Linked DNA regions of Homo sapiens: region 2 is linked to region 1. The links come from fine-mapping of genetic effects on gene expression. A gene starts in region 1. The other region holds a variant in brackets. All regions are shown on one strand. Distances are between the middles of the regions.

Region 1 (12,643 bases):
TTGCACAGTCTGGAGTGCACTGGCATGGCATGATCTCTGCTCACTGCAACCTCCGCCTCCCAGGTTCAAGTGATTCTCATGCCTCAGCCTCCCAAATAGCTGGGATTACAGGTGCATGGCACCACACCCGGCTACTTTTTGTATTTTTGGTAGAGGCGGGGTTTCACCATGTTGGCCAGGCTGGTCTCAAACTCCTGACCTCAAGTGATCTGCCCGCCTCAGCCTCCCAAAGTGCTGGGATTACAGGCGTGAGCCACTGTGCCTGGGCCTAAGCCATATATCTTATAATAGCTGTTCCCTTAGTTACACAAAGACTAGATAAAGCTTTGAAAAAGTTGCTTCAAAGAGGCCGGGTACAGTGGCTCACATCTGTAATCCCAGCACTTTGGGAGGCCAAGGTGGGCGGATCACTTGAGGCCAGGAGTTAAAGACCAGTCTGGCCAACATGGTGAACCCCATCTCTGCTAAAAATACAAAAATTAGCCGGGTGTGGTGGGACGCACCTGTAATCCCAGCTACTCGGGAGGCTGAGGCAGGAGAATCGCTTGAACCCAGGAGGTGGAGGTTGCAGTGAGCCAAGATCGCACCACTGCACTCCAGCCTGGGTGACAGAGTGAGACTCCATCTCAAAAAAAAAAAAAAAAAAAAAGTTGCTTCTAAGAGAGATTGGATTCTTTCACAAAGCTCCAACTCCTTTGGGCTAGGAAATAGGTTGTTTTGTTCTTCTGGTTACATAAGTGAAGAGCACAACACATAGTAGGTGTTGAATAAAGGTACATAAACAACTATAGTCAACCTAATTAACCGGGACTAGGATAAGCTTGTCCAACCCTCGGCTTGCAGACCACATGTGGCCCAGGATGGCTTTGAATGCGGCCCAACACAAACTCGTAAACTTAAAACATTATGAGATTTTTTGGTGATTTTTTTGGTTTTGTTTTTAGCTCATCAACTACCATTAGTGTTAGTGTATTTTATGTGTGGCCCAAGACAATTCTTACAGTGTGGCTCAGGGAAGCCAAAAGATTGGACACCCCTGGACTAGGGGGCCCAGCAGGAAGAGTCACTATCATTCTGTGAGTCCTCACATCACAGCTTACCCATCTCCAATGTGGCACTTACCAAGTGCTGCTGTAATTTTCCTTTTAGCATCCATCTTGCCCAAGGCACATTAAGATTCATTAGCTGTCGACTGGGCACAGTGGCTCACACCTGTAATCGCAGCACTTTGGGAGGCTGAGGCAGGCTAATCCCTTAGCCCAGGAGTTTGAGGCCAGCCTAAGCAACACGGCGACACCCCATCTCTACAAAAAATACAAAAATTAGCTGGGCATAGTGGCACGCGCCTGTAATCCCAGCTACTCAGGAGGCTAAGGCAGGAGGATGGCCTGAGCTTCTGAGAGCAAGGCTGCAATGAACCATGATCGTGTCACTGCATTCTAGCCTGGGTGACAGAGTGAGACCCTGTCTCAAAAAAAAAAAATGAAAACAAAAAAATTAAAGCTCGGGCACAGTGGCTCACACCTGTAATCCCAAAAATGTGGGAGACCAAGGTGGGCTGATCACTTGAGGTCAGGAGTTGAGACCAGCCTGACCAACATGGTGAAACCCTGTCTCTACTAAAATTACAAAAATTAACCAGTGTCGTGGTGGGACCTGTAGTCCCAGCTACTTGGGAGGCTAAGGCAGGAGAATCACTTGAACCTGGGAGGTGGAGGTTGCAGCGGGCAGAGATCATGTCACTGCACTCCAGCATGGGTGACAAAGCAAGACTCCCTCTCAAAAAACAAACAAAAAAATTCATTAGCCATCATGCTTGGGTTTTCCTCATCCCAACATTATTATTTTAAAAAAACAGCCTTATTGAGGTATTGTTAGTTGACATAAATTGCTCATGTTTAAAATATACACCCGGCCGGCCGGGCGCAGTGGCTCACGCCAGTAATCCCAGCACTCTGGGAGACTGAGGTGGGCAGATCACGAGATCAGGAGATCGAGACCATCCTGGCTAACACCGTGAAACCCCGTCTCTAATAAAAAATACAAAAAATTAGCCGGGCGTGGTGGCGGGCGCCTGTAGTTCCAGCTACTCGGGAGGCGGAGGCGGGAGAATGGCACGAACCCAGGAGGTGGAGGTTGCAGTAAGCTGAGATCGCACCACTGCACTCTAGCCTGGGCGACAGAGCGAGACTCCATCTCAAATAAATAAATGAACAAAATAAAATAAAATATACACCCAGCTGGGCGCGGTGGCTCACATCTGTAATCCCAGCACTTTGGGAGGCTGAGGCAGGCAGATCACCTGAGGTCAGGAGTTCCAGAGCAGCCTGGTCAACATGGTGAAGCCCCACCTCTACTAAAAATACAAAAATTAGCCAGGCATGGTGTCGGGCACCTGTAATCCCAGCTACTCAGGAGGCTGAGGCAGGCAGAAGAATCGCTTGAATCCGGGAGGTGGAGGTTGCATTGAGCCGAGATTGCGCCACTGTACTCCAGCCTGGGCAACAAAGCGAGACTCTATCTCAAAAAAAAAAAAAAAGGCACACCCATGAAACCATCACCACAATCAAGGCAATGAGTATATATTCATCAGTCCCAGAACTTTCCTACATTCCATTTACAACCTCCTTCCTTCCCCTTCTGCTTCCCTTCACAGCAACCATTGATCTGCTTTTTATCACTATAGTTTGTATTCCTAGAATTGTATATAAATGGAATCCAACGGGCACAGTGACACATGCCTGTAGTTCCAGCTACTTGAGAGGCTGAGGTGGGAGGATTCCTTCAGCCCAGTTCAAGGCTGCAATGAACTATGACCACGCCTATGCACTCCAGCCTGGGCAATATAACAAGACCCTATATCTAAAAAAAAAAAAAAAATTCTATAGTATGTATTCTTATTTTAAAAATCTGCTTCCTTTACTGAGCATAGATTATCCATGTTGTTTTGTGGATCCATACTTTATTCCTTTCTACTGTATGGCATTAAATTTGTTTATCCATTTACCTGTTGGTAGACACTTTCATTGCTTCTGATTTTTGGATATGACAAATAAAGCTGTTATAAATATCCATGTATAAGTCCTTGTGTACCCATGTGTTTTCTTTTCTCTTGGGTAAATACCTAGGAGTGGAATGGCTAGATCATGTGGTGTATGGATGTTTAACTTCTAAAGACCCTGCCAAACTGTTTTCCAAAGTGGTTGCACCATTTTGTTCTTTCTTATTATGACCAGCAGTTTGCCCTGACAGAGGTTGCACCATTTAAGATTTTAACCAGAGTGTGTGAGAATTCCACTTCCTCCACATCCTCTCCAACACTTGATGTGGTCAGTCTTCTTTTACTTATTTTTATTTTTTAAAATTTAAACAGAGATGGGGTCTCACCATGTTGCCCAGGCTAGTCTTGAACTCCTGAGCTCAAGTGATCCTCCCAAAGTGCTGGGATTACAGGTGTGAGCCACTGCACCCTGTCCAGTCTTAATATTAGCCATTGTAATAGGGAAGCCAACATTGTTTTAATTTTTTGACTAGGTAAGCATTCACATGGTTCAATGTTTTTGTTTGTTTGTTTTGGAGCATCATCCAGGCTGTAGTGCAGTGGCTTGATCTCGGCTCATTGCAACCTCCATCTTCCAGATTCAAGCGATTCTTCTGCCTCAGGCTCCCAAGTAGCTGGGATTACAGGCGTGTGCCACCACACCTGGCTAATTTTTGTATTTTTAGTAGAGACGAGGTTTCGCCATTTTGGCTAGGCTGGTCTCGAACTCCTGACCTCAGGTGATCTGCCTGCCTTGGCCTCCCAAAGTGCTGGGATTACAGGCGTGAGCCACTGCGCCCAGCCTCATTTTTTTTTTTTTTGAGACAGGATCTTGCTATGTCATTCAGGCGGGAGCCCAGTGGTGCCATTATCTTCACTGCAGCCTCGAACTCTTGGACTCAAGTGATCCTCCCACCTCAGCCTTCCAAGTAGTTGGGACTATAGGTATGTGCCACCACACCAGGCTAATTGATTTACTTTTGTGTGTGTGGAGATGGGGTGTCATTATGTTGCCCAGGCTGGTCTCGAACTCCTGGCCTCAAGTGATCCTCCTGCCTTGGCCTCTCAAAGTGCTCGGATTATAGGTTCAAATATTTTTAAACGTCTAAAAAGTATATAGTAAAAAGTCACTTCCACCTTTGTCTCACATCCTCCACTCCCTCTCCCCCTTATGTAACCACTTTTATAGGTATTTTGTGTATCCTTCCAGAATTTCTTTACTCAAATTCTGATGAATATTCTTGGTTTCCCTGCTCTTTGACATAAAAAGTATCATATTGGCCAGGTGCGGTGGCTCACGCCTGTAATCCCAGCACTTTGGGAGGGCGAGGCGGGTGGATCTCTCGAGGCCAGGAGTTCGAGACCAGCCTGGCCAACATGGCAAAACCCCGCCTGTACTGGAAATACAAAAACTAGCCAGGCATGGTGGTGCACACCTGTAATCCCAGCTACTTGGGAGGCTCAGGCACAAGAATTACTTGAACCTGGGAGGCAGAGGTTGCAGTGAACCGAGATCACGCCACTGCATTCCAGCCTGCGTGACAAGAGTGCAACTCTGTCTCAAAATAAAATAAAAAATAAAATAAATAAAATGTATCACACTAAGTATATGGTTTTGAATCTTTCCCTTTTTTATTTAAAGAACACCTTGGAGTACTTTCTCATTCTCTGTTGCAGCCACATAGTATTTTATTGTATGGATGTATCAAGATTTATTTTTTCTGTTTCCTATTGATAGAAATATGGGTTATTTCTAATCTTTTGCTGTTACAGAAAAGCTGCAATGAATAGCCTTATACATACGTTTCTCGTGAGTGCAAATATATCTGTAGAATCACTCCCATTAGTGGGAATGGTATGTTTGCAAGTTTGATGGATATTGCCAAATTAACCTTATAGGATTTGTACCAATTTTCACCCCCATCACCAACAAATTAGAATGCCTGCTTATCCACAGCCCTGCAAATAATGTTAGCAAATGTTTGGATTTTCGCCAATCTGATAATGATATCGGTGGGGTTTAATCTGCCTTCTGATTACGACCCAGGCTGAACATCATTTCATGTGTTAGGGAGTCATTTGTTTTTCCTTTTCTGTGAACTGTCTGTCTGTAAATGTCATTTGCCATTTTTTTCTAATGGTTGATCATATTCTTACTGATGTCTAAGAGTTCTTTACATGCAGGAAGATTAGCTCTTTGTGATGTAAATTACAAATATATTTTTCCAATTTGTCATTTGACTATATGGAGTTTTGACTTTGTAGAAATTTTGTCCTGACATTAGTCCTGGAACTAGTCCAGTTGTTTCTGCTTCCTGGATATTTCTGGAATCCCCCCATTTCTCTCTACTGTACTGCCTCTTCCCTAGGCCAGTCTGCCATCATCACACCTAAATGACTAAATTTGATTCTAAATGGTATCTCAGACATACGTCCACTCTTGCCCTTTCTTTAACCTATTCTATATTCTTTAGCAACCAGAGGGATTTTTCCTTTTCTTTTCTTTATTTTTTTGAGATAGCCTCTATCACCGAGGCTGGCAGAGTACAGTGGTGTGACCACGACTCACTGCAGCCTCGACCTCCCGGGCTCAAGCAGTCCTCCTATCTCAACCCCTCGAGTAGCTGGGATCACAGGTGCGTGCCTCTATGCCTGGATACTTTTTTAGAAATTTCTTGCCGAGATGGGGTTTCACCACGTTGCACAGGCTGGTCTTGAACTCTTGGGCTCAAAGAATCCTCCTGCCTTGGACTCCCAAATTGTTGGGAATGCAGGCATGAGCCACTGTGCCTGGCCCAGAAGCATTTTTCTAAAAGAAAAACACAAGCCAGGAGCAGTGGATCACGCCTGTAATCCCAAGTTTGGGAGGCCGAGGCAGGAGGATTGCTTGAGGCCAGGAGTTCTAGACTACTCTAGGCAACAAAGTGAGACTCTGTCTCTATAAAAAATTTAAAATTAGCCAGGCATGGTGGCAAGCACCCACTGTCCCAGCTACTCGGGAGGCTGAGGTGAGAGGATGAACTGAGACCAGGAGTTCAACGTTGCCGTGAGCTGTGACTGCACCACTGCACTCCAGCTTGGGTGACAGAGCAAGACCCTGTCCCAATCAATCAATCAATCAAACAAAAACAAGATCATATCACTTTCCTGCTTAACATTCTTCAGTGGCTAACTAGTGCCCTTAACATAGAATCCAGTATCTTCATGTGGGATCTTACATGGGCTCTAAGGCGTCCCTGCAAGGTCTGGCTCACAGTTCTTCAGCGTCAATTTTTTTTTTTTTTTTTTTGAGACAGAATCTTGCTCTGTCACCCAGGCTGGAGTGCAATGGCACGATCGCGGCTCACTGCAACCTCCGCCTCCCAGGTTCATGCAATTCTCCTGCCTCAGCCTCCCAAGTAGCTGGGATTACAGGCACGCACCACCATGCCCAGCTAATTTTTGTGTTTTTAGTAGAGACGAGGTTTCCCCATGTTGGCCAGGCTGGTCTCGAACTCCTGACCTCAAGTCATTTGCCCGCCTTGGCCTCCCAAAGTGCTGGGATTACAGGCATGAGCCACCGCACCCGGATCTTCAGGGTCATCTTTTATCAGTCCCCTTACCAGTATGCTCTGGCTACACTGAACTCTTTCATGCCCTCCCCCTCTATAAGCCTTCTCACCTCTAGGCCTTTGCATAAGCAGTTCCCTCTTCCAGGAACCCTCTTCACTTGCTTAACCTGCTCTCACCCTTCAGATTTCATCTCAGACATCACTTGCATCAGGAAACCTTCCCTGACTACATCAGAATAGAGTAGGTGCCTCACCTATGTGTTCTCCTCACACTCCATGCTGTCTTTATGTCAGCACTAATCATATTATGTGTTCACTTTTCTGTCTCTCCCATTAGGTAGACCATAAATTCCATGAGAGTATGGACTATGCCTGTCTCTTCATTATTATTTCCCTAGTGCCTGTCACAGGGCCTGGCACATAATAGGTGCTCAAAAAATATTTGTTAAATTAATGTAAGAAAGAATGTTTGATAAATGACCAAATAAACATCTTCATCTCATTGGGGAATCTACGAGAATGAAGAAAATGCCAAAGTTTGATCCTGTTCAAGAAAGTAGCTAATTACTACTACTTTTTTTTGTAGAGATGAAGTCTCACTATGCTGCCTAGGCTGGTTCTGAACTCCTGGCTCAAGCGATCCTCCTGCCTAGGCTGCCCAAAGTGTTGGGATTACAGGTGTGAGCTGTTGCACCCAGCCACCATTTACTTCTTAATTCCACCTGCCAGAGAAAGCACTGGCCTGCAACTCTTTCATTTTTGTTAGTAATCTCATTTGGCTCTGCCCTGGTTTTCCCAATGCCCAGGTCCCACTGTGACAAGCAAAATACCCAACAACCTGTAAAGTAGGCCTGACCAATCTGAGGGCAGTTTACATGAGCAGGAGGTAGGCCCAGGAGAGTTCCTGGGTCCTAAGAGTTAACCCTTTAATCATTGGACAATGGAGGTGGCAAGATCGCTTGAGGCTGGAAATTCAAGACCAGCCTGGCCAACACAGGGAGACCCCATCTCTGTATTAAAAAATGAATAGCACGTGCCTGTAATCCCAGCTAGTCGGGAGGCTGAGGCAGGAGAATCGCTTAGAACCCTGGAGGCGGAGGTTGCAGTGAGCTGAGATTGCGCCACTGCACTCCAGCCTGGCGACAGACCAAGCCTCTGTCTCAAAAATAAATAAATAAATAAATAAATAAATAAATAAATAAATAAATAAATAAAAATAAGGCTCGGCGCAGTGGCTTATGCCTGTAATCCCAGAACCTTGGGAGGCCGAGGCAGGTGGATCACCTGAGGTCAGGAGTTCGAGACCAGCCTGGCCAACATGGTGAAACCCCGTCTCTACTAAAAAATACAAAATTTGCCGGTCGTGGTGGCGGGCACCTGTAATCCCAGCTATTCGGGAGGCTGAGGCAGGAGAATTGCTTGAACCCAGGAGGCGGAGGTTGCAGTGAACCGAGATCATGCCACTGCACTCCAGCCTGGGCGACAGAGCAAGACTCCATCTCAAAAAAAAAAAAAAAAAAAAAAAGAAAAGAAAAAATTAAAACTTTTTTTAGAAAGAAAGAAAACCAGCCTGGCCAACATAGTGAAACCCCGTCTCTACTAAAAATACAAAAATTAGCCAGGAATGGTGGCGCACGCCTGTAGGCCCAGCTACTCAGGAAGCTGAGGCAGGAGAATTGCCTGAACCCGGGAGGTGGAGGCTGTGGTGAGATCGCCCCACTGCACTCTAGCCTGGGCAAGCGAGCAAGACTCCGTCTCAAAAAAAAAAGAAAAAGAAAAGAAAACACTTAATCGCTGCCCTAAAGGATGCCATCTTTGCCCTTAAGGATAATTAGGTTAGAAAGAGAAGCCATACATAGAGAAAAATAGAGGTACCATACAGGTCACCTGCAACAGGTGCTAAAAAAAGGAAAGGGCCACAAACACTCCATGGGTAGTGCAGTTATGTCAGTTTCAGTGCCAGGTGTTGCGTACAGCACGGAAAACATAACCCCTTCCTGTACGTGAGAAAGGCAACGACTGTCCTGGGGAAGACAGGGCAGCGAAGATTCCAGTGCAGGTCTCATTCAGGAAAGGATACATGTGAGCTGGAGTGGCAAAATAAATTTTAACAGAGCTGAAGCTTAAGTTGGGCTTGGTGGGGAGGGACGCATGATAAACTAAGGTGTGGGGAGCCGATTTCAGGCAGTGCGACAAATTTGCAGAAATCTAAGCCCCTCGTGGAAGGTTGCCAAGGTGAGGTGACCTTGAGTGAATGCGTGTAGGTGGAAAAAGGTTCCGGGGAATGCTTGCATCGTTCTGCATCCGAGCGTCCAACAGAGAAAAGATCCTGTTTCCAGACAATACCTGCATTTGGTTTTTCTCCAGCTGAGGGACACCGGTAGGGGGGGGGAGGACAGAAACGAGCAGGGGGTGGGGCCAAGGCGAGTGGGCGGGACCGCGCGGACCCTCCCGCGGCCGACTGGAGGCCCGGAGCAGGGGCGGAGTTTCCGGCGGCAGCGCCACTCGGGCGTCGGGTGACGCTAGGCGGACGGACCATCATGTGACACGGAAGTAGCTCCGAACAGGAAGAGGACGAAAAAAATAACCGTCCGCGACGCCGAGACAAACCGGACCCGCAACCACCATGAACAGCAAAGGCAAGGACCGAGGGTGGCAGAGGCCGTCGGGGGGAGTACTGCTGGCCCAGAGCGAGCGGATTCGGAGCCCAGGGTCACCAAACGCCAGGTTTGGGGTGGGCTGCGCCATGCTCCTTGGCCGGCTGCAGTCCAGGGCGCTGCGCCTGACGCCTTCGTCATACCCAAATTACGGCAGCTTGCTGCCTCCAGGCCCTTTCCTCCGTAAACTCTGTGGCGCAGTTTGGAGCTGCGGGCTCGGGTGGTGGGGGGGCTTGACATGATGGGCATCCGCAGGAGCAAATAGAGCGCTAGCGCAGGCATTCGCGTAGGCCAATGGAGAGCCGGCGGAGGCGGGGCGCCGCGCTCCGGAACCCCCAGCGGGGCCGAACTTAACTACTGAATTGCTGGAGTTGGTTCGTGGGCCGGGGCCTGTGAGGTCTCTTTTCCTTCCCTTCGCACCCCCTCGCCCTTCGCTGACGGGATCAGAACTTCTCCCCTTTTCTGTGGTTGTACCAGTGTGTCTGTCGGAACATGATTCCCATAACGCAGGAATAGGTTGAGGGGGTAAAAAAGGAATAGAAAAAAAAAAAAAAAAAAGGCCGAGCGAGGTTGCTCACGCCTGTAATCCCAGCAGTTTGGGAGGTCGAGGCGGGCGGATCACCTGAGGTCAAGAGTTCGAGACCAGCCTGGCCAACGTGGTGAAACCCCGTCTCTATTAAAAAATACAAAAATCAGCTGGGCGTGGTGGCGGGCGCCTGTAATCCCAGCTACTCGGGAGGCTGGGGTAGGAGAATTGCTTGAACCCAGGAGACGGAGGTTGCAGTGAGCCGAGATCGCGCCACTGCACTCCAGCCTGGGCAAAAGAGCGAGACTCCGTCTCAGAACAAACAAAAAACCAAACCTGATCCCCCGCTTTTCCAGTGAGGATATTCCTCCTCACCCCTCAGCCCTGCACCCTTTTCCCAGTCTCACGGTTCACTTCCATCATTCACACCCTTTGTTTGGAAGTCGACCTTGAATAGTAATCTGTAAGGAAAATCAGAACTGCTGTTACCCACGAAGTCTGGGCTGGTTGTAGACAGGCTGTGGAGACTACCTAGAGCAGAGGCACCCTTGATAAGCCAGAACAGCAGCAGGCCAGAACCCCAGACCTGTCCTGCATTCCGGAGGGAACTTGGGCCCAGGTAGACTTAACCCCTTACTTCGGTATGTTAGTAGGAGCAGTGAGCAGTGCCTTTCTTGTCTCGTTAGAATCCAGCACCTTCCATTTTAAGGGTGCAAAGACAATGCATATTTTCTTAGTTCCAGGAATCAGGCCCTCTGGGGCAGACTATTTGCAAATCCCCTTCTGCTTGCTCCCACTAAGTTAGCTACCCGATATGACCTGCCTCATTTTGGTAGCTCTGTGTAGTAGGCAACCTTCATTTTTTTCTTGTCTTTCAGGTCAATATCCAACACAGCCAACCTACCCTGTGCAGCCTCCTGGGAATCCAGTATACCCTCAGACCTTGCATCTTCCTCAGGCTCCACCCTATACCGATGCTCCACCTGCCTACTCAGAGGTGCTTCCAGTTTGCCAGATTTGAACTAGCTGGGAATACTCTTAGGGTGGTCCTTTAGTCCTTAGCTAAATCTGACTTCACATATTTACTCTTCACAAATGCTAACATGAATAATCTAAAACACTATATAATTTGGCAATTTTTGTCGGAGTTGAAAGTGCATTATTTGATGATTTTGTGTTATTTGGCACAGGCTAAGGTGCAGAAGATGAATTTGCGTTCTGTGAGCCCAACATTAGCTATAGCAGAAAGTGATCCAGGAGAATATTGAAGGCCAGTGGAAAGGCAACTTGTATAATCTTACAAAAAGTATAACCTGCATAAGGAGAATTAAGAATTAGCTCATTAAAGAGATCTCAAATAGGAATGTCATAAAGTAACATTTTGCCTTCTCTTCTGCCTCTTCTAGCTCTATCGTCCGAGCTTTGTGCACCCAGGGGCTGCCACAGTCCCCACCATGTCAGCCGCATTTCCTGGAGCCTCTCTGTATCTTCCCATGGCCCAGTCTGTGGCTGTTGGGCCTTTAGGTTCCACAATCCCCATGGCTTATTATCCAGTCGGTCCCATCTATCCACCTGGCTCCACAGTGCTGGTGGAAGGAGGGTATGATGCAGGTGCCAGATTTGGAGCTGGGGCTACTGCTGGCAACATTCCTGTGAGTATGACCTCATCAGAAGAAACTCAGCCCTTGTGTATTTTAACTTTCTGAAATGACTTCATATTCATTCTCTTACCATTTCTGGATGATAGTTGCCAGTGTTGGTACAACTACTGACATCCAATACTCAGGCAGAAAGTGTTTGAGGGGGCAGAACTGTGGCAAGTGAGTAGCATCTCACTGGGGGCTGAGTTAACCAGATTCTTTTGTTTTCATGTCTGTCGAGTCCTGCTTGCTGCTTTTCCAGTTCATTGTGGTACACTGAACTGGTCTAGTAATGCTCCTTATTCATTCCATAAGCATTTACCATTTACTTAATATTTGCCATCAGCATGGTGTTGCACTAGGAACCCTGATAATTAAAAAAGTAGAATGTATAATCCCTAGTAAGTAGCTTTTAGAAAGATATTAACAATTTTAGTTATCATTTTTTCCTACTTAATTCCCCAGTGCGTGGGATTTAGAGCTCAAATGACTGCTCAGTAACTACATGCTAGAGATGAAGTGAATGTGTCATTAGCGAGCCTTCAGTTTTCCAGTAGTTCATTCAAAAACTGTGTAAGGGCGAAGCACGGTGGCTCACCTGAGGTCAGGAGTTTGAGACCAGGCTGGCCAACATGGTGAAACCCCGACTCTACTATAAATACAAAAATTAGCCGGGCATGGTGGCAGGCGTCTGTAATCCCAGCTACTTGGGAGGCTAAGACAGGAGAATCACTTGAACCTGGGAGGTGGAGGTTGCAGTGAGCTGAGATCCCACCACTGCACTCCAGCCTGGGCGACAAGAGCAAGACTCTATCTCAAAAAAATTAAAAAAAAAAAAAATTAAAAATTAAAAACTATGTAGGGACCATGTGGGATTCATACATGGACTGGCACCCTGTCCCTGTTTTGGGAATGTGAGTAGGACAGTGGTTCTCTACCCTCAAAATGACTGTTGGTCTGGTCTGTTCATGTTCAGAAGGTAGCCATAGGCTTCATCTTAGAGCTGGAACCCTTTGAATGAGTGGTAGGCTCCCTTTCCTGTTTGTATCTTTGGGTTCACATAAAGTATAGACCTACTTTAGAACTCAAATTGGTGGCGGAACTAGCTCCTTAAAACGCAGCTGGTTAGCACATTGCCTCATCCTAACAGGCCTCTGCTTCCCCTATGTCCCCTTCGCTTATATTAGCTGCCCTGTGCCCATTCTATCATGTCATTTCCTTTCAGCCTC
Region 2 (16,098 bases), 21 kb before region 1:
TGGAGTGCAGTGGCACGATCTGTGCTCACTGCAGCCTCTGCCCCTCGGGTTAAACCAATTCTCCTGCCTCAGCCACTCGAGTAGCTGGGATTACAGGCATGTGCCACCACGCCAGGCTAATTTTTGTATTTTTAGTAGAGACAGGGTTTCACCATGTTGGCCAGGCTGGTCTTGAATTCCTGACCTCAAGTGATCCACCCGCCTCGGCCTCCCAAAGTGCTGGGATAACAGGCATGAGCCACTGCACCTGGCCAAAAAAAAAAGATTATGTTGCATTTCCTACAGCATCCTAGGAGAATCTACACTCAGTAGTACCAGGAACATCTGGGCTTAGGGTGAGGAGAGTAAAGAAAGGGCAAGATATCTGTCCCTGGGGCCTCCCCAGTCCGGTGGGAGAGCACACCCAGCAGAACCCAATGGGAATCTGACCCTGACCCTCAGAACCTTAGACTTAGGTAAGGAGCAAGGGAGAAATCTGGGCAGACTTCCTGGAATAGATGGTAAAAACATAAATTAAAGTGCTCTCCAACTTTAATATGCATGATCATCACCTGGAGCACTTAGTAAAAATGTTAGTATTTATATCAATTAAAGTACAGAGTAGAGTGGGACTCAGTCTCACTAAATAAATAAAATACAGAGTAATAATTTAAAAATAAAAATGTAAATGCAGACCCTTAGACCTTTTCACCCAACTACTCTCAGAGAGTCTGATTCAGTGGGTGAACATCACAGAATCAGCTCTCAGGTGACTCTGTGACAGTGGCCCAAAGACCACAGTGGCCTGTAACAGAGGAGGTGGGACATCCCAGATGGTGGAACAGCCTGCCCTGTGCAGTGAGGAGTGGGTGAAGCCCTCATGTGAGGACAGGTTGTCTGACTAGAGCCACAAACTACAGTCGTAAGAAATAAAGAAAATAGGTTGGGCGCAGAGGCTCACGCCTGTAATCCCAGAACTTTGGGAGGCCAAGGCAGGAGGATCACCTGAGTCCAGGAGTTCCAGACCAGCTTGGGCAACATAGTGAGGCCCTGTCTGTACCAAAAAAAAAAAAAAAAAAATTAGCTGGGCATGATGGCGCATGCCTATAGTCCCAGCTACTCAGGAGGCTGAGGTGGGAAGATCGCTTGAGCCTGGGAGGTGGGAAGATCGCTTGAGCCTGGGAGGCAGAGGTTGCAGTGAGCAGTGAGTGGTGCACTCCAGCCTGGGTTACAGAACCAGACCCTGTCTCAAAAAAGAGAGAGAGAGAGAGACAGAGAATCAGGCAAATAGCTTTAGACACTTTTAAAGGAAAAAAAGCAATTGACATTTATTTCGAGTGCATATTGTATGCTAGACATTTTATATAACACAATTGCTTGCTGTATTACTCATGCCAACCCTGGGGGCGTGGGGAATGGGAGGCATTATTATCCGCATGTTACAGATGGTGAAACAAAGCCCAGAGGGGTGTTCTGGATTCACCTTTCCTTTCTGCTATGGTCTGAATGTGTCCTTCCCCGCAAATTCATGTGTTGAAATGCTAATCCCCAAGGTGGATAGTATTAAGAGATAGGGCCTCTGGAAGGTAATTAGGAATGGGATTAGTGCCCATATAAAAAAGAACCAAGGCTCATGCCTGTAATCCCAGGACTTAGGCAGGTGGACTGCTTGAGCCCAGGAGTTCGAGACTAGCCTGGACAACATGGTGAAACCCCGTCTCTACAAAAAGTACAAAAAGTAGCTGAGCGTAGTGGTGCATACCTGTAGTCCCAGCTACTCAGGAGATTGAGGCAGGAGGATCACTTGAGCCCAGGAGGTTGAGGCTGTGGTGAGCAGTGATTTCGCCACTGCACTCCAGCCTGGGCAACAGAGAGACCCCAGTGTGAGAGAGATACTTTCACCCTTTCGACTATGTGAGGACACAGCAATAAGGCTCTGTCAGTGAGGAAGTGGGTCCTCACCAGACAACACCACCTTGATCTTGGACTTCCCACCTTCAGTACTATGAGAAATAAATTTCTGTTGTTTAAAAGCTACCCAGTTTATGGTATTTTGTTATAGCAGCCCAAACAGACTACGATAAATTCACATCCCATACAATTAACCATTTTAGCCACTTTAAAGTGCTCCGTACAGTGGAATCTGGTGGGTTCACACTTGTGCCACCATCACCACTGTCTAGTCCCAGAACATTTTCATCAACCCAAAAGGAAACTCCATATCCACTAACAGTCATTCACCTTCCACTGCCACCGCCCAAGCCCTGGCAACTACTGATGTGCTTTCTCTATGGGGTTCCCTATTCTGGATATTTCATGTAAATGGAATGATAGAATATGTCGCTTTGTGTGTCTAGCTTCTTTTACTTGGCATGTTTCCAAGGTTCATCCACATTGTAGCATGTGTCAGAACTTCATTCCTTTTCATGGCTGAATAGTATTCTATTGTATGGATACACTATATTTTGTTTATCCATTCATTAGTTGGTGGACATTTGGGTTGTTCTACCTTTTGGCTATTGCAAATAGTGTATTATGACTATTGGGTATAATTTTTTTTGAACACCTGCTTCCAATTCTTTGGGTATATACCTAGGAATGGAATTGCTGGATCACCCCTGGGGTTTTAGCATCTTCATTGCTTGGCAGAATGTTCCCTGATCAACCAGGTAAGGAGAACCATGAGGTTCTTTCCCTCCTCTTCCTTCCTTAACCCCTCTAGAGTGGGATTCAAGAGAGGGCAAGCAATTCCAGGTACCTAACAATTTGAAAAAAGAGGAAATGAGCCTTCCCCTTTCAGGTAGGATGAGGGGGTGCAGGAGGGGCAGAGGAATTTGCTGAAAGAACTGGTGAGCATCTAACTACCTCAATGGGGCTCTAGCCTCCTTCTTAGGTGATGTCTCCCCTCAGATTTTTTTTTTGTTTTGAGATAGGGTCTTGCTCTGTTGCCCAGGCTGTAATGCAGTGGCATGACCATGGCTCATTGCAGCCTCAAACTCCCAGCCTCAAGTGATCCTTCCACCTTAACCACCAGAGTAGCTGGGACTACCCATGGCCAGCTAATTTTTTTTATTTTTTATTTTTGGTAGATATGAGGTCTCACTATGTTGCCAGGGCTAGTCTTAAACTCCTGTCTCCCCAGATTTTGTACATGGTAGTCTTCCATGAGTTTTTCAGAGAACTTGGCAATTTACCATCACTTCTGGGTAGGAACTGGGATAAGCTATGAAAGTCGTTACACATAGAAGCCATTTGCAAAGAAAATAAGAGGAAGAGACAAAATTGAAATGAAAGCTGCACAAGGTGAATCTGGGTGCATTATAGCTTGATACATACATTTCTTGGGGAGAAGAATTTTCCAATTCCAAAGGTCATTAGGCGTAAGGCAGCAGTAGCCAATCTTTGTAGGACAACAAGGCATCTGCTTGAGAGGAGCGTTAAGTCTGCTCATAGTCTTGTTGTGGCGTCTGGCTCCTTGCTGCCAACTATGGCCACTCACAGGGAGTGGCTGAGCAGGGGCAAGCGTCCACTTTGTGACTGTGTTATTAGGAGGATTCAGGTAGTGATAAGGCTTGGGTGATTCTGATATCCCTTTCACCCTTAAAATTTGACGAGCTTTGAGGACCTGGGTCCTCAGTGTCTGGTCCTTTAAGTCAAGGGCAAAGTCAGTCCTGAGACATAGCCTCTAGCCACACCTAAGCCCACTCCAACCCACCCACCAGATTTCATTCAGCCCACCAGAAATCCAGGCAGAGCAGAGTCCAAGACCTCCTTTGTCTCAGATCTCAGACTCCCTTGTCTGTCTCTGTCTTACCTTTAGATGGCTCCTATTACACATGTATGTGATATCAACGTCTCTCTGACAAGTAGACACTCAGCATTTTGACTCTGAGCTGTACCCTGTGTGTTCCCCTTGCTTGGTATCTGTGCAGACTTTCCTCTGGACCTGCTGCCATCTCCTTGTCAGGAACTTTCCAAATTTTTTTTGAGCCTCAGGCTGTGGCTTGGTTCCAGTGACTAGACAGCCCTCTTCAGTTTGCTTTTTGACCATTTCCCCAATGACTGCATAAATAGCACATCTGGATGGCCTCCTTTAAGCCCATGATGCTGTGCAGTGCCCACAGCCTGAAGGCCAGGGAGGAGAGACAATCAGCTGTCTGTTTCAAGAGAAGGAGCTCCTGTCCCCATCCCAGCAGTAGAATCCCAATACATACACAGATCACAGCAGAGCTGCTCTGGTTAAAGCTGGGGAGAGAGCCAGAGCCCACCAAGGGCCCTCTCCTTTGCCTTCTTTCTCCAGTGAGTTGACTTTGAAAAACGCCTGGATCAGGGCTGGCAAGGCACTCTGGTTGGCTAGCAAATGGCTCACTTATCCCTTGCTTTCCTTGCTAACATCTAAAAACGCAGGCAGGGCTGGGCACAGTAGCTCACACCTACAATCTCAATGCTTTGGGAGGCTGAAGGGGGAGGATTGCTTGAGCTCAGGAGTTTGATATCTTCCTGGGCAATGCAGGGAGACTCTGTCTCTACAAAAAATTGAAAAAATAAAATAAACTAGCCAGGTGTAGTGGTACACGCCTATGGTTCCAGCCACTTGGGAAGCTGAGGTAGGAGGATTGATTGAGCCCCAGAGTTCAAGGCTGCAGTGAGTCGTGATCACGCCACTACACTCCAGCCTGCACTCCTTGACAGAGCAAGACCTTGTCCCTAATAAATAAATAAATATACAAACAAAAACCCAAGCAGCCTCAGGGGTAGAAGGAACAGCAAGTGCTAAGGCATTTGCCTACCACCTGAGAATCCAAAGAGGTCCAGGGCCATGCAGGATTTTCAGCGGGGGAGAATGAGCTAGAGGACCTAGTTCTGCCTGTCATTCTCCTCTGGAACTGCTCTGGGCTTAGTGCAACATTCCAAGATACCCAGGAGGAGAACTGGGATATCCCAAACAAATCAGAACTCCCTAGAATAGTCTGAGATCCTATTAGAAGAAATCCTGAAATGCCTTGCCTTTCGTTTTTTTTTTTGTTTTTTTTGTTTTGTTTGTTTGTTTGTTTGTTTGTTTGAGACGGAGTCTGGCTCTGTCACCCAGGCTGGAGTCCAGTGGCACAATCTCGGCTCACCGCAACCTCCGCCTCCCGGGTTCAGGTGATTCTCCTGCCTCAGCCTCCTGAGTAGCTGGGACTACAGGTGCGCGCCACCATGCCCAGCTAATTTTTGTATTTTTAGTAGAGACGGGGTTTCACCATGTTGGCCAGGCTGGTCTCGAACTCCTGACCTCGTGATCTGCCTGTCTCAGCTTCCCAAAGTGCTGGGATTACAGGCATGAGCCACTGCGCCCAGCCAAACCTTTGTTTTTTCAACGCATGTTTCAGTGGCTACTATGTGCTAGGCACTGGGAATTCAATGGGGAAAACACATTTCCCACCTTTGTCAAGAAATCTATAGTCCAGGCCGGGCGTGGTGGTTCTTGCCTGTAATCCCGGCACTTTGGGAGGCTGAGGCGAGTAGATCACCTGAGGACGGGAGTTCGAGACCAGTCTGATCAACATGGAGAAACCCCGTCTCTACTAAAAATACAAAATTAGCCTGGGGTGGTGGCACATGCCTGTAATCCCAGCTACTCGGGAGGCTGAGGCAGGAGAATCGCTTGAACAACAGGGAGGCAGAGGTGAGCCAAGATCGCACCATTGCACTCCAGCCTGGGCAACAAGAGTGAAACTCCGTCTCAAAAAAAAAAAAAAAAAAAAAAAAAGAAAGCTATAGTCCAATATGGGAGTCAAGGAAATAAGAAGGTAACTACAATACAGTATGCTTAAGTTTCATGGTGGGTGAACAGAAAGCAGTAAAGAATCTACAAGAGGGACACCTAACACCTAATGACCTAATGCAGTTGTTTTTTTTTTTCGAGGCGGAGTCTCGCTCTGTCACCCAGGTTGGAGTGCAGCGGCGGGATCTCGGCTTACTGCAACCTCCGCCTCCCAGGTTCAAGCAATTCTTCTGCCTCGGCCTCCTGAGTAGCTGGGACTACAGGTGCGCATCACCGCACCAGGCTGATTTTTGTATTTTTAGTAGAGACGGGGTTTCACCATGTTGCCCAGGTTAGTCAGGAACTCCTGACCTCAGATGATTCACCCGCCTTGGCCTCCCAAAGTGCTGGGATTACAGGCGTGAGCCACCGCGCCCGGCCTCTAATGCAGTTTTATGTGGTGCTTGTTCCCAGGGAGGCCTGTATTTCAGACATGAAATTTTATGTAAAAGAATCTTGTCCTATGTAGGAAAATGGAACTTGTATGGGATTCAGACTTTTAAACTCAGATCCATTTCTGGTTTTATTATCATTTTTTTTCAGAGACAGGGTCTTTCCATGTTGCCTAAGCTGGTTTCCAACTCCTGGGCTCAAATTATCTTCCCACCTCAGCCTCCCAAAGTGCTGGTATTACTGGCATGAGCCACCATACCTGGCCCATTTCTATGGTTTATTTTATTTTATTTTATTTTTTTGAGACGAGGACTTGCTCTTGTTGCCCAGGCTGGAGTGCAGTGGCATGATCTCGGCTAACTGCAACCTCTGCCTCCCAGGTTCAAACGATTCTCCTGCCTCAACCTCCCGAGTAGCTGGGACTACAGGCGCCCACCACCTTGCTCAGCTAATTTTTGTATTTTTAGTAGAGACGGGGTTTCCCCATATTGGCCAGGCTGGTCTCGAACTCCTGACTTTGTGATCTGCCCACCTCGGCCTCCCAAAGTTCTGGGATTACAGGCGTGAGCCACCACATCCGGCCTAATTTCGTTATCTTTAAAATGGTGACTAGGCCAGGCGCAGTGGCTCACACCTGTAATTCCAGCACTTTGGGAGGCCAAGGCAGGAGGATCACCTGAGGTCAGGAGTTCAAGACCAGCCTGGCCAACATGGGGAAACCCCATCTCTACTAAAAATACAAAACTTAGCTGGGTGTGGTGGCGGGTGCCTGTAATCTCAGTTACTTGGGTAGCTAAGGCAGGAGAATCGCTTGAACCGGGAGGCGGAGGTTGCAGTGAGCCGAGATCATGCCATTGCACTCCTGTCTGGGAGACACAGTGAGACTCTATGTCAAAAAAATAAATAAATAAAAATAAATAAATAAATAAATAAATAAAATGGTGATTAAATAGGCAAGCCCTATGGGATTGTTATGATGGTGATATGAGATCATGTAAATGAAATGCTTAGCATGACTCTTACCACAATCATCTTCATTTTTATCTATATGTACATAGAGGTAGAGAGAGGTCAGGTGACTTGACCAAGGGCACAGGAGAGTCAGTGGCAGATTCAAACTTCAAGGCTCTGTCGACCTGCCCCGGACCCCATCCTCCTGACACCACACAGAACCTCCTCTCAGGAAATGGGGGTAAGGCTGATGGGGACTGCTCTGGTCCCCAAGGCTCAGGACACACTGGAAAACAGAGGATCTCAATTCTGCTCCACACCGACGCCTGTCCCCACACCCTGAACCATGAGCAGAGATAACAGTCTTGCCAAGCTGTTGGTAGGCTAACAGCTAGGCACACACAGGCCAGAGAAAGGAAAAAGAATGATGAGGTGACCAAATAAATAGGAGAGTAGAGTCAAGGGTAGTAGCTCACACCTGTAATCCCAGCACTTTGGGAGGCTGAGGCGGGTGGATCACTTGAGGTCAGGAGTTGGAGGGCAGCCTGGCCAACATGGTGCAACCCTATCTCTACCAAAACATAACAAACCCAAACAAACAAATAAAAAATTAGCTGGGTGTGGTGGCGCAGGCCTGTAGTCCCAGCTACTTGGGAGGCTGAGGCCAGAGAATCGCTTGAGCCCAAGAAGGTGAAGCTGCAGTGAGCCAAGATTGTGCCACTGCACCCCATCCTGGGTGACAGCAGAGTGAGAACCTGTCTCAAAAAAGAAAAAAAAAAGAAATGTGAAAAATGAAAAGTAGGTATGTTCCTAGTAGACTGTAAGCTCCAGGAAGGCAGGGATCATGTCTGCTTATCATCATATCCCTGGTGCCTAAGATAATATCTGGTATATAACTAGGTTCATGAATATGGGCTGAAAACAATTGAAGATACGAGGTCACGTCATAGCCACATCACTTAGCCTCTTATTATTTCCTACCTTTTCCCTCAAAACACACACCCTACTTCAAATGTTTTGCCTCCATTTCCAGTACTGGGGCTACTTAAAAATGATTTCAAAGACGTGGTACAGGCCGGGTGTGGTGGTTCACGTCTGTAATCCTAGCACTTTGGGAGGCCGAGGCGGGCGGATTACTTGAGGTCAGAAGTTCAAGACCAGCTTGGCCAACATGGTGAAACCCCGTCTCTACTGAAAATACAAAAATTAGCCAGGCATGGTGGTGTGCGCCTATAGTTCCAGCTAGTTGGGAGGCCGAGGTGGGAGAATTGCTTGAACCCGGGAGGTGGAGGTTGCAGTGAGACCAAGATCGCGCCACTGCACTCCAGACTGAGCGACAGAGTGAAACCCTGTCT[C/CA]AAAAAAAAAAAAAAAAAAAAAAGAGAGATTTCCAAGGTGTAGTATTGGGTTCTGGAGAACCCAGACCACACTGGCCCCTTCCTAAAGCGCCCGTCTAATTTCTCATTCCAAGCCTTCCTCCTGTGGCCAGTTTCTCCTGCATCCCACTCTCTCTTCTGCCTCATGAACCCTCATTTTGACATGAGGGGTCAAAGGCAGGTTTAAAGGCAGAAGACCCAGCTTGAGTACTGCTTCTACTAGAGGTAATCCCTATAAGCCTCCGTTTCCTTATCCAAAATGGAACCAAATTATAGTAACCACCTCATGGGTTATTGTGAGGATTAAATTGATAATATTTATGGAAGGCACTTAAAACAGGGCCTAGCATGAAGCAAACACTATATATATGTTTGTTATTATCATTGCTATTATTTTGAACTGAAGTAAAGCATGCATATAAAAATGTTTTAAATTATAAAGCATTTTAAAAATGTAAAAGATGGCCAGGCACGGTGGCTCACGCCTGTAATCCCAGCACTTTGGGAGGCCAAGACGGTTGGATTGCCTGAGCTAAGGAGTTCGAGACCAGCCTGGGCAACACGGTGAAACCCCATCTCTACTAAGATACAAAAAAATCAGCTAGACTCTGTCTCAAAAAAAAGAAAATGTAAAAGATTACTCTGATAATTTTATGGTGAGTAAATCTTGGGGACAAGAATATGAGCTTATCCCAAGTTCCTTCAAAATGCAGAAAAACCTTACAGGAGCAAATTTTTTCTGAGTCACTTTTCTTAACTGCCAGCTAGTACTTCCAGGAACAAAACAGAATAAATGGCTACATACACACACACTGACACACAATCACTCTATGGTATTACCTTGTTAGTTTTAATGTTTAGCATCTACTTGTCCACCCCCAGAATAAAAACTCCATGATAGAAGTTTTGTCTGAATTGTTCAGAGCATGGCACTGAGTGGGTATTTTTGTTGAACTAATGAAGAAATGAAGTTCTACAGCAGATAAGCGGAGTACCAGGTCACAGAAGTATCACTTTGAGGACCAGGACTTGAATGAAAATGGAATATATGGAATTATTCCTCAGAAGGCCTCTGCCAGTCAATGGTGGCTGCCTTAGATTGCTAAATAAGGGGCATGGGACACATGTATATGAACAATTGAAGACCAGCCCTCTACTTTTGGAACAAGGAATTTGGGAAGGGCAGATGAGGTTAAAAATCTCTGCAAAGAGCCTCTTTTCTTTGGCCCAGGAATGCTTCCCGAACTCTTCTGATTTCCCCCTGCCCAGCCGCAGAGGCTATTCTGTGAAGGTTTTAGGCTTCCAGTCGGGCTGAGTGGGGTATTCTGCCGCGAAAGTGGAGGTTAGAGGGTATGCTGGGAGCTCCCTTGGCCTTGCCAGGTGAGCCTGCCCAGGGAGCCTGCATCGGGCCCATTATTATGACTATTTATTAATAATAATATCGATATTAAATATTTATGAAGTGCTCATGCTCTGCTAGAAGGTGGCCCTCCCATCACTGACCCACCCTTCCAGCAACGCCTGGGTCCCTACCCCCGGGTCCCACCGGTCGTCCCGGAGTTTGTTCATTCGGGAGAACCGTGACAGGTCACCCTGGCCGCCCCAGCTGGCCCTAACCGCCGGGAACCCAGGCGTCCGTGTTCTCCAGAGAGGCAAGGATCCGCTTCTGGTCGCCACTGGTTCTGTGTACAGAGCGTCCCCTGTGGTCCGCACCCCACAAGGGCTCCAGGGGCAGAAACGGGGAGGGGCCAGGTCGGGGTTCCCCACCGGGTCCACCTGGCGGCCGCCCCCTCCGCTCCAGGTCCAGAGCGGCCCGCGGGCGGGCGAGGGCGCGGCCCCCGGGTGTCTAGCCCCAGCTGGGCAACCGCGCGCTGTCCCGCTCCCGCAGCTCCCCGCCGCCCCGGCCCAGCATCCCGCCGCCCCGGCCCCGCGGCTTTTTTTCTCTTTATCATAAATATATAAATTATGCTAATTACGGGCATTGCATATTAACCAAACCCGAAACCTCCCCTGCCCGGCCCCCTCCCCCTCCGTGCAAACCCCTCCCCGCCCCGGACCCCGCTACTTACCGGAGCCCGAGCCCGAGCCGCCTTCGCCGCGGGTGTCTGGCGGCCACCGATTAGAGATTCATCTCACAGCCCGGGCCAGGGGGCCGGGGCCGGGGCCGGGGCCACGGCGGCCGCCGCCCGCAGACAAAGAAGCCAGTGCGGCTTGGCTGGGCTCGGCTCGGCCCGGGAGCTGGTCGGGACCCGCCGCCGCCCCCAGGCCCCCAGCCTGGGCTGGGCAGAGCCGAAGGGGGCTCCGCAGGCTAAGCCGGGCGGAGAGGGGACGGCCGGGAAGCGGGAAGGGGAAGCCGGGTGGGGGGGCGGTCAGGTATATATTTTTCTTCGTTCCCCCTTCCACGACCCCCCCCTTTTCCCTCCCCCCCTTTTTTCCCTCCTTCTGCTACTTGGATTTTTTTAGCTGCTGCGTCATGAGCATAATTTATGCAAAGAGCTTTGCCGCATGCTGCACCGCCCGCGCCAGCCGCCGGGGGCGGCGGGCTGGGAGGGCGGTCAGGGAAGGGAGGGGAGCACGGGAGCCAGGAGCGAGGGGTGGGGGTGGGGAGGGGACCCTCTGGCCCTGGCCGAGCGGGAGGTCCCGGAGGCTCTCTCCCGGGACAGGGATGGACGGTCAGTGGGTCTGGTTACTCAGCCCCTCCGAGGTGCCGCGGAGGTGGTTTCATTTCGGAAGGTGCCAGAGTAGGAGCTGGAGTCCGGACCCTCCATGCCACATGGCCTTCAGCTGAGGGTTGGGGCGGTGACTCCCGGCCACCGCCTTTCCTCTAGGTAGTCAACTGTCCTCAATGTTGAAAGTCAAGTTTATGTCTATCCCTCCCTCCCTAGAAAGGCGGGGGAACTCAGACATCGCTCAGCCAACGTGGAGAACCTCTGAACAGCTGTGCCCCAGCGCCAAAGCAGCGAAGGGTCCCAGGTCTCTCACCCGGTGGCGGCCGTGGGCTGTGTTGTCTAAAAGCAGATTTCCGGCCTTCTTGTCCAAGTAGACAAGGAAATGTGAACAGAAAGACAAAGTTCAGTGGAATGGTGAAAAACCTCTAGCAGCTTCTTAAGGTAGAGAGGGGACCAGAAAAGGGGTGGATGTGGGTGGCTGAGGGAAAGCAGATTGGAGAAGTGGTGGACAACTGAAAGAGGAAAAAGTTGGAAGACCAAAGTGGAAGCGTGGGAATGGAGAGAAGAACTGGGAAGGAAGGAGGCTCTGTAAATCCAGTGAATGTGGATCCCAATACTGAGGCCACCTGCTGTCATCCTAGGCTGTTCCCCCTCCCACCCTCTCCCGATATTTGGTGGTCTGAGGATAGCTAGAGGTAGATGGGTTAGAGGCAGTGTGAGAATGCAGTTGGAGGCCTCAGTCCTCCCCGGGACTGCTCCGTAAGGCCTCGTGGTGGAAGGGCATTGAATGGCCCGGCCTCGTCGTTAACCTGGCCAGTGGACTAGGCTGTTATCAGCTTGCTGTTTCCATCTGGAAGTGAGCAGGTACTGCTGGCGGCGGATTTATGAGTAACCAATGTATTAGGAGTCAGAATACTTAGGTTTTAGTCCCAACTCTTCCACTAGCCGTCCAGGCAAGTAATTTAACTTCTTCATTACTTATAAAACAAGGATAATATTTATAATGACATTTATAATGACTACTTCATAGGGTTAAGTTTGTGAGCCTGTATGTGAAAAAACTGAAAGCTGCAAGCTCTATACAACTGTAAGGTGTCATTCCTTGTACAATAGTTTGAACTCGTTTTAATGGCCCTGTGAAACTCTACTGCGTGGCTTGATATTACAGTTCTTGGGGTTTTTGTTTGGCCGGTAGTCCCTGTAGTTTCTCTCCCTGGACTGTGAATTCTTTGAGAGCACTGGTTGTGACTTACTCATGTTTGTATTTCCCACTACTCTTTATGTGAAGGAGGGGCTCAGTATTGCTGCTGAACTTTGTCACATGAAGGTTGAAACTTTTCATTTATGTCACTTGGTTTGGTGCTACACATAGATCAAAGGCTTTGGATAGCATGGATATCAGCGACAGTTTGAAGAAAGAAATATGGATGTGATCAGAGGAGTTCAGGGAGACATACATAAAAATGTTAATCACGGTTTTCTTTATGTTGTATACACTTCTGCATTGCTTAAATATTTGATGAGCATATATTACTTTTTGTTTCTGTGTTTATTGGGGCATAACATGTACACAGTATGTGTATACCTTGATAAATTTTTACATGTATATACATATGTACGTGTATGTATGTGTGTATACATATGTACGTGTATGTATGTGTGTATACATATGTACGTGTATGTATGTGTGTGTATACATATGTACGTGTATGTGTGTGTATACATATGTACGTGTATGTGTGTATACATATGTACGTGTATATGTGTGTATACATATGTACGTGTATATGTGTGTATACATATGTACGTGTATATGTGTGTGTACATATGTACGTGTATGTGTGTGTATACATATGTACGTGTGTGTGTATACATATATACACGTGTATAGATACGTGTATACATATATACATGTCTATATATACATGTATATACTCACACACATATATATATCCATGTAATCCCCACCCAAAACAAGATATAGAGCCTTTCCAAGACCTGAGGATTCCCTTATGTACCTTCACCGGCCATAAATTCCCAAAGTAACCATTATTCTGATTTCTGTCACCATAGATTGATTACTTGAGCTGATTCTTGAACTTCTCATAAATGGAATCAGACAATATGCAATCTTTTGTGTTTGGCTTCTGTCACTCAACAAAATTTTTTTTTTTGAGACGGAGTCTTGCTCTGTCGCCCAGGCTGGAGTGCAGTGGTGTGATCTCGGCTCACTGCAACCTCCGCCTCTCGGGTTCAAGTGGTTCTCCTGCCTCAGCCTCCCAAGTAGCTGGGACTGCAGGTGCGTGCCATCACGCCCAGCTAATTTTTTTTTTCTTTTTTTTTTCGAGATGGAGTCTCGCTCTGTCGCCCAGGCTGGAGTGCAATGGTGTGATCTCAGCTCACTGCAACCTCCACCTCCTAGGTTCGAGTGATTCTCCTGCCTCAGCCTCCTGAGTAGCTGGGATTACAAGCACACGCCACCATGCCCGGCTAATTTTTGTATTTTTAGTAGAGATGGGGTTTCACCATGTTGGTCAGGCTGGTCTTGAACTCCTGACCTCATGATCCGCCCACCTCAGCCTCCTAAAGTGCTGGGATTACAGGCATGAGCCACCACGCTCCCAGCTAATTTTTTATACTTTTGGTAGACACAGGGTTTCACCATGTTGGCCAGGCTGGTCTCGAACTCCTGACCTCAAGTCATCCGCCCTCCTCGGCCTCCCAAAGTGCTGGGATTACAGGTGTCGGCCACCACACCCGGCCTCAATATATGTTTTTGAGATTCATCCATGTTGTTGAATGTAGAAGTATTTTTTATTGCTGTGTAGTATTCCATTGCATAATTATACTACAATTTATCCATTCCATTATTGATGGGCATTTGCTTGTTGTTTGGGCCTCTTAGGAATAAAACTGCTATGAGCATTCTTGTACAAGTATTTTGGTGAACATATGCACTTATTTCTTCCAGGTAAATACTGAGGAGTAGAATAGCTATTCTATTTTATTTAGCTTTTGTCCATACTGCTAAATAGTTTTCTATAGTGTTTGAACCAATTTATATCTTTATCAGCAATGCATGAGAGAGTTCTAATTGTTTTACATCCTCACCAGTATGTGGTATTGGTAGTCTTCTTGCAATGAAAGTTTATTACTTTTTGGCTGGGCGCTGTGGCTCATGCCTATAATCCCAGCACTTTGGGAGGCTGAGGCGGGTGGATCGCCTGAGGTCAGGAGTTCGAGAGCAGCCTGGCCAACATGGTGAAACCCCGTCTCTACTAAAAATATAAAAACTAGCCGGGCGTGGTGGTGGGCTCCTGTAATCCCAGCTACTCGGGAGGCTGAGGCAGGAGAATTGCTTGAACCCAGGAGACGGAGGTTACAGTGAGCCGACACGGTGCCACTGCACTCCAGCCTCAGTGACAGAGTGAGACTCCGTCTCAAAAACAAAAAACAAAGTATATTACTTAAAAAATTTTTTTTTCTTTTTTTGCCTGGGCATGCCAAAGACCGCACCTGGCTTTTGTTGTTGTTGTTGTTGAGACAGAGTCTCACTCTTTAGCCCAGGATGGAGTGCAGTGGCACGATCTCCACTCACTGCAACCTCTGCCTCCTGGGTTCAAGCGATTCTCCTGCCTCAGCCTCCCAAGTAGCTGGGATTGCAGGCATGTGCCACCGTGCCCAGCTAATTTTTGTATTTTTAGTAGAGACAGGGTTTCACCATGTTGGCCAGGCTGATGTCAAACTTCTGACATCAGGTGATCCGCCTGCCTCCACCTCCCAAATTGCTAGGATTACAGGTGTGAGCCGCCACGCCTGGCCTAATATTTTATTATTTTTATTTTAAAATTTTACTTTTTTTTGAGACAGAGTCTTGCTCTGTCACCCAGGCTGGAGTGCAGTGATGAGACCTTGGCTCACTGCAACCTCCACTTCCCGGGTTCAAGCTATTCTCCTGTCTCAGCCTCTCGAGTAGCTAGGATTACGGGCATGCACCACGATGCCCGGCTAATTTTTGTATTTTTAGTAGAGATGAGTCTTCACCATGTTGGCCAGGCTGGTTTTGAACTCCTGACCTCAGGTGATCCACCTGCTTCGGCCTCCCAAAGTGCTGGGATTACAGGCGTGAGCCACTGCACCCGACCTATAGTATTTTGTTATAACAGCCCAAACGGACTAAGACCCATCGATACTGATCCACTTTCAGGTTCTTAAACTTCGAGCTCTTTCCTGCCTTCATTGTGTCTGCCTATGCTGTTTCTTCTGCCTCCTCCTTAGCCCATCTTTCAGGCCTTGCCTTATATATGGCTTCCTTCCTCAGAGACATTTTCCCTGCACTTCAGTGTTATTTTGTCTCGTATCACCTTCCCGTTTTCTTAATCACCATGTGTGCTGATGTATTTGTATGTTTATTTTCTATTTAATATGTTTACCGAGTAGGCAGTAAATTCCAAGGCAACAGTCCATTTTGTTTTTGACTGGACATTTGGCACCAAGCCCAGTTATCTGGCACACAGTAGATAATAATTACTTATTGAATAAATGAAGGCTCGGAAAGTTGGGGAAATGTGAGTGAAGGAGAAAACGAAAACGTGCTGGGCTGAGAATCCTGTTGAAGAGTTTTATTTGGCCGGACACGGTGGCTCACGGGTGTAATCCCAGCACTTTGGGAGGCCGAGTCAGGTGGATCCCGAGGTCAGGAGTTTGAGACCAGCACGGCCAACATAGTGAAACCCCGTCTTTACTTTTTTGTTTGTTTGTTGAGACGGAGTCTCGCTCTGTCACCCAGGCTGGAGTGCAGTGGCGTGATCTCGGCTCACTGCAAGCTCTGCCTTCCAGATTCATGCCATTCTCCTGCCTCAGCCTCCCGGGCAGCTGGGACTACAGGTGCCCACCACCACGCCTGGCTAATTTTTTTGTATTTTTC

Alleles and levels. Alleles are on the strand shown, and positions count from the first base shown. SD is a standard deviation of normalised expression in the study named.
For the expression in microglia of the gene that starts at base 9,136 in region 1, allele CA in region 2 goes with a higher level than allele C (large effect, 0.85 SD a copy in Young 2019).

The links.
Region 2: its variant is fine-mapped to the expression of DAZAP2 in microglia (Young 2019, PIP 0.95).

The regions. Positions count from the first base shown.
Region 1 is chr12:51,229,691-51,242,333 of GRCh38, forward strand. DAZAP2 (DAZ associated protein 2) reads left to right here and starts at 9,136. Exons shown (of 4, transcript NM_014764.4): 1 at 9,136-9,230; 2 at 10,653-10,771; 3 at 11,181-11,426; 4 at 12,640-12,643. The coding sequence starts at 9,218. RefSeq lists enhancers at 8,186-8,823, 8,915-9,209, 9,133-9,382, 10,099-10,735 and a silencer at 8,933-9,042.
Region 2 is chr12:51,207,071-51,223,168 of GRCh38, forward strand. POU6F1 (POU class 6 homeobox 1) reads right to left here and starts at 10,992. Exons shown (of 11, transcript NM_001330422.2): 1 at 10,572-10,992. RefSeq lists silencers at 10,166-10,425, 10,656-10,815, 11,016-11,165, 13,273-13,452 and an enhancer at 11,316-11,375. The variant C/CA (reference allele first, on the strand shown) is at 8,485.